Linked DNA regions of Homo sapiens: region 2 is linked to region 1. The links come from fine-mapping of genetic effects on gene expression. Tissue or cell type: whole blood. Region 1 holds a variant in brackets; the other region holds the start of a gene. All regions are shown on one strand. Distances are from middle to middle.

Region 1 (2,758 bases):
TGCATTTCTCTGATGATTAGTGATGTGGAACATTTTTTTCATATACCTGTTGGCCATTTGTATGTATTATTTTGAGAAATGTCTATTCATATCATTAGCCCACTTTTTAATGGGATTTCTTTTTAAATGGAGGAGTTGTTTGAATTTCTTGTATATGCTGGATATTAATCCCTTTTCAGATGAATAGTTTGCAAATATTTTTCTCTCATTCTGTAAGTTGTATCTTCACTCTGTTGATAGTTTCTTTTGCTGTGCAGAAGCTTTTTAGTTTAATATAATCCTATTTGCCTATTTGTTGTGGTTGTCTGTGCTTTTGAGGTCTTAGCCATGAAATCTTTGCCTAGACTGATGTTTTGTTTTTTCTCTTTATTTTTTTTTCTAGCAGTTTTATTGTTTCAGGTCTTACATTTAAGTCTTTAATCCATCTTCAGATGATTTTTGTGTATGGGGAGACATAGGTGTTCAGTCTATTCTTATGCATATCGTGAATTTCAAATTTTCCCAAAACTATTTATTGAAGAATTTCCTTTCCCCAGTGTATGTTCTTGGCACCTTTATTGAAAATCAGTTGGCTATAAATAAGTGAATTTAATTCTGGTGTCATTATTCCGTTTCACTGGTCTATGTGTCTGTTTTTATATCCTTAACAATCCTGTTATTATAGCTTTCTAATACATTTTGAAGTGAGATAGATGATGCCTTCAGCTGTGGTCTTTTTGCTCAGAATGGTTTTGGCTATTCTGGCTCTTTTTCTTTCTTTCTTTCTTTTTTTTTTTTTTTTTTTTTTAGTATTTATTGATCGTTCTTGGGTGTTTCTCGGAGAGGGGGATTTGGCAGGGTCATAGGACAACAGTGGAGGGAAGCTCAGCAGATAAACATGTGAACAAAGGTCTCTGGTTTTCCTAGGCAGAGGGCCCTGCCGCCTTCCACAGTGTTTGTGTCCCTGGGTACTTGAGATTAGGGAGTGGTGATGACTCTTAACGAGTATGCTGCCTTCAAGCGTCTGTTTAACAAAGCACATCTTGCACTGCCCTTAATCCATTTAACCCTTAGTGGACACAGCACATGTTTCAGAGAGCATGGGGTTGGGGGTAAGGTTATAGATTAACAGCATCCCAAGGCAGAAGAATTTTTCTTAGTACAGAACAAAATGGAGTCTCCTATGTCTACTTCTTTCTACACAGACACAGTAACAATCTAATCTCTCTTTCTTTTCCCCACATTTCCCCCCTTTCTATTCGACAAAACCACCATTGTCATCATGTTCTCAATGAGCTATTGGGTACACCTCCCAGATGGGGTGGCGGCCGGGCAGAGGGGCTCCTCACTTCCCAGATGGGGCAGCCGGGCAGAGGCAACCCCTCACCTCCCAGAGGGGGTGGCTGGCTGGGCGGGGGCTGCCCCCCACTTCCCGGACAGGGCGGCTGGCCGGGCGGGGGCTGCCCCCCACCTCCCAGATGGGGC[A/G]GCTGCTGGGCAGAGATGCTCCTCATTTCCCAGATGGGGCGGCTGCTGGGCAGAGGGGCTCCTCACTTCCCAGATGGGGTGGCTGGTCAGAGACGCTCCTCACCTCCCAGACGGGGTGGTGGCAGGGCAGAGACACTCCTCAGTTCCCAGACAGGGTCACGGCCGGGCAGAGGCACTCTTCACATCTCAGATGGGGCGGCAGGCCAGAGGTGCTCCCCACATCCCAGACGATGGGCGGCCGGGCAGAGACGCTCCTCACTTCCTAGATGGGATGACGGCCGGGAAGAGGCACTCCTCACTTCCCAGACTGGGCAGCCGGGCGGAGGGGTTCCTCACATCCCAGACGATGAGCGGCCAGGCAGAGACGCTCCTCACTTCCTAGATGGGGTGGCGGCCGGGCAGAGGCTGCAATCTCGGCACTTTGGGAGGCCAAGGCAGGCGGCTGGGAGGTGGAGGTTGTAGCGAGCCGAGATCACACCACTGCACTCCAGCCTGGGCAACATTGAGCACTGAGTGAGCGAGACTCCGTCTGCAATCCCAGCACCTCGGGAGGCCAAGGCTGTCAGATCACTTGCAGTCAGGAGCTGGAGACCAGCCTGGCCAGCACAGCAAAACCCTGTCTCCACCAAAAAAAAGAAAACCAGTCAGGTGTGGCGGTGTGCCCCTGCAATCCCAGGCACTTGGCAGGCTGAGGCAAGAGAATCAGGCAGGGAGGTTGCAGTGAGTCGAGATGGCAGCAGTACAGTCCAGCCTCGGCTGGGCATCAGAGGGAGACCGTGCAAAGGGTAGGGGGAGGGGGAGGGGGAGGGAGAGGGAGAGGGAGAGGGAGAGGGACTATTCTGGCCCTTTTTTGGTTCCATATGAATGAATTTTTTTTTTCTGATTCTGTGAAAAATGACATTTATATTTTTGATAGAGGTGGCATTGAACATGTAGATTACTTTCAGCACTATGGTCATTTTAATGATATTCTTCTAATTCCTGAACATGGGATGTCTTCCAATTTGTTTGTATCTTCCTAAGTTTCTTTACTTAGTGTTTCATAGATTTCCTTGTAGAGATCTTTCATCTCCTTGGTTAAATTTATTCCTAAGTATTTTATTTTTTGTAGTTATTGTAAATAGGATTGCTTTCTTAGTTTCTTTCTCAATAAGTTCATTATTGGTGTATAGAAGCACTACTGATTATTCTTTATTGATTTTGTATCCTACAACTTTAATGAACTTATTTATCAAATCTAGCAGTTTTTTTGTTGGAGTCTTAAGATTTTTCTAGATAAGATCATATCGTCAGC
Region 2 (2,500 bases), 220 kb before region 1:
TGCTTATACCTTTTAGATTCATAATTATTTTTCTTGTATCAAAATTTCAATTAATAGAAATAAATGACGTTACTGACACTTCATGATGATTAAGTTTTGGGCAAGTGAACCATTTTACACTCTATTTTTTATTCCTCCCACTTTTAGTCAGAATACACCTGCAGAATAAGTAACAGAACTGTGTGAAAAGAACGACTAGGTCATTACGGTTAATAGTTTTAGAAAAACAGCCGAGGCCTGGTCTGGAAAGCTCACAACCTCCACCCAGATGCTTTCCAGCCTCGGGGATATTCGTACTAGCAGTGACACTAGCCAGCTTCCTCTAGGCTGGCTCTGATGTTGGAAGACAAGCACGCAGATGTGTGTTACTTTTCAAGCCTGGACATCGTTTCTGAGGAATTTAACTCCACCTCTCCTGCCAGAATGGAAAATCAACGCCCCCCATTCCCGCCCTTCACCAACCCCTCTCCGCCTGCCCCTTTCCCTTGGGTCCTCTCTGTTACAGAAGTTCTGATTTTTCCTAGCGAGCTGGAGGAAAGGCAGGTACCCGGAGTGGAGTTATATTACCTGTTTCTTTGTTCTGATGGGACCCCAGAGAGGACATCACGCTTTGTAACTGGTTCTTCAAGGGGAGAAGCAAATGTGTCCCTGAAAACTTCAGCTGCCGCGTTTGGCACCAGGTTTGATTGACAAGGACTGGCGGAGGGAAAGCGCGGAGGCTGGGCTGGGGGCCGCAGGCCGAGGCAGAGACAAAGAGGTTTCGCCTGTCCCCGAGAGTGGAAGGGCCCCTGGGGGTAACTAGCCTTTGAGCTCAAAGGGGCATTTCGTGAGGTCGCCTTTTGGTTCGGAGAGCGCGCGGCGATCGGGTGGAGGGGGCCTGGCGGGAAGAAAGCTGGGGCGGGGAAGGGGCGCGGGCCGAGGTGGGAGCGGAGCTGCAGTCACGTGGCCGCCCGCCGCCGCGGAGTTGGGGCTGTTCTTCCGGGTTGGAGGCGCAGCGCCGCGGGGCCCAAGCCCGGGTCTGCCAGCGCGACGTCCTCTCGCGGCCCTCAGGGCACAGCCCAAGGCTGTCAGCCTCCCGGCCCAGGTGAGCGCGACGGCACTGGCGGGTGCGGGCAGCCGGGGCGCGCGCCTAGGGCGCAGCTGGGAAAGGGGCTCGGGCCTTTCCTGAAGACCACGGCCCTCGCCGGGAGAGAGACCTGTCAAAGAGCAAAGCGGGGCGGGGTCGGCGGTGTCCCGGGCGCAGGGTGCATTGGGGTGTCCGCAGGCCGCAGGCTTAGGTGGGGAAGAAGCACCGTGCCTCTTGGTGTCCCTTTCTCGTCTCCTGCTGGGGCGATGTCGAAGGGAGTGGGCTGGTGGATTTGGGAACTGGGTCCCCGAAGAGGGCAGGGAATGAGGCGGCAGCTGTGCAGGTGCAGATATTTGCAGCTTTGGGGGACAGCGAGAGTCGTACGGGGTCATTTCGGCCCTCAAGATCGGGGGTGGTGGAGAGGGAGGTCATAGAGGACTTTCGATGGGCGGTTCATCCAGAGAGGTGGCAGCTGGATGCCCTTGAGGTATGCTTGACCCTTGAGGGAGTTCGGAGAGGGTGTCCGGCTGGGGACATAGGAGATTGCGAGCACAAATTGTGAGTGTGAGTTGGGGCGGTCTGGCGGTGGTGGGTACAAGTTTCTGGGGCCTAGGCTGGTGAGGAGGAAGAGACAGCGGAGAGGGCGACCTGGGCAGAGCTAGTTCAAACTCAACAGCCGGAATGACTATTTGCAGCCGTGGCCAATCGGCTTCCTAGGGAGGTTATAAATAGCGGTCTCGTGCAGATGCCAGCGGGTGGCAGTTAGTTGCCGAGCAAGGGACGGCACCGGTGGCAGTAGCCGTGACACCAGTGGCTTTGGGTGAGGTCACGGCGCCTGCCAGCCGAAGCTGGCTCAGTAGGGTATTGTGTCCTTGCTGGTATGTCTCGCTTTTAAAAGCGTGACTTGTTTATGGTTGCCGGTGTCCTTTATTCACCCTGTGGCGCCGGCCAGTCCTTAGGTGGTCTGTTTGTCAGGAGTCTTGTAGGACAGACTTATTCGGAGAAGCGCGTGGGGCTTAGGTGCCTACCTACTCTTCTTATTTAAAGTGTGCCCCTTTTCTTCATTGCACCCCTTTTATTTGTAAACCTTGACTTTTTATTAACAGACAGTTTAGGATTGCCTTCTTTCCAGCAGGTGCGCTTAGGCTGCTTACCTTGGTGATAGAATCAGTTTTCCACAAGGCTACACAAACATTTCCTTTTCAAAGGAAATTTTCCGAAAATCCTTGGAAAATGTGCTCAATAGGTACTTAGGCTTAAGGTCACCTAGCCCTATTCATTCAGTCAAAAATACTGACTTCCTCTGTGTTGTGCAAAGCACTGGGGGAGAGTAATACCAAAGTGAATATAACAGCTGATAAGGATATTCTCAGTCCTGGCAACAACCCTGAGAGGTAGGTGCTGTTATTTTATTTTTTCAAGTCTCGCTCTGTT

Evidence for each region. PIP is the estimated chance that this variant, and not a neighbour inherited with it, causes the effect.
Region 2: NNT starts here. The variant in region 1 is fine-mapped to the expression of NNT in whole blood (TOPMed, PIP above 0.99). The same link has a PIP of 0.9 or more in T cells, fibroblasts, lung, lymphoblastoid cells, macrophages and monocytes.

The regions. Positions count from the first base shown.
Region 1 is chr5:43,823,111-43,825,868 of GRCh38, forward strand. No RefSeq gene overlaps it. Among named protein-coding and RNA genes, the nearest start is that of NNT-AS1, 220 kb to the left of the region's middle. The variant A/G (reference allele first, on the strand shown) is at 1,465.
Region 2 is chr5:43,602,211-43,604,710 of GRCh38, forward strand. NNT (nicotinamide nucleotide transhydrogenase) reads left to right here and starts at 970. Exons shown (of 22, transcript NM_182977.3): 1 at 970-1,084. It overlaps NNT-AS1 (NNT antisense RNA 1), which reads right to left and starts at 1,020. Exons shown (of 3, transcript NR_073113.1): 1 at 568-1,020. RefSeq lists silencers at 318-537, 801-890, 1,011-1,230.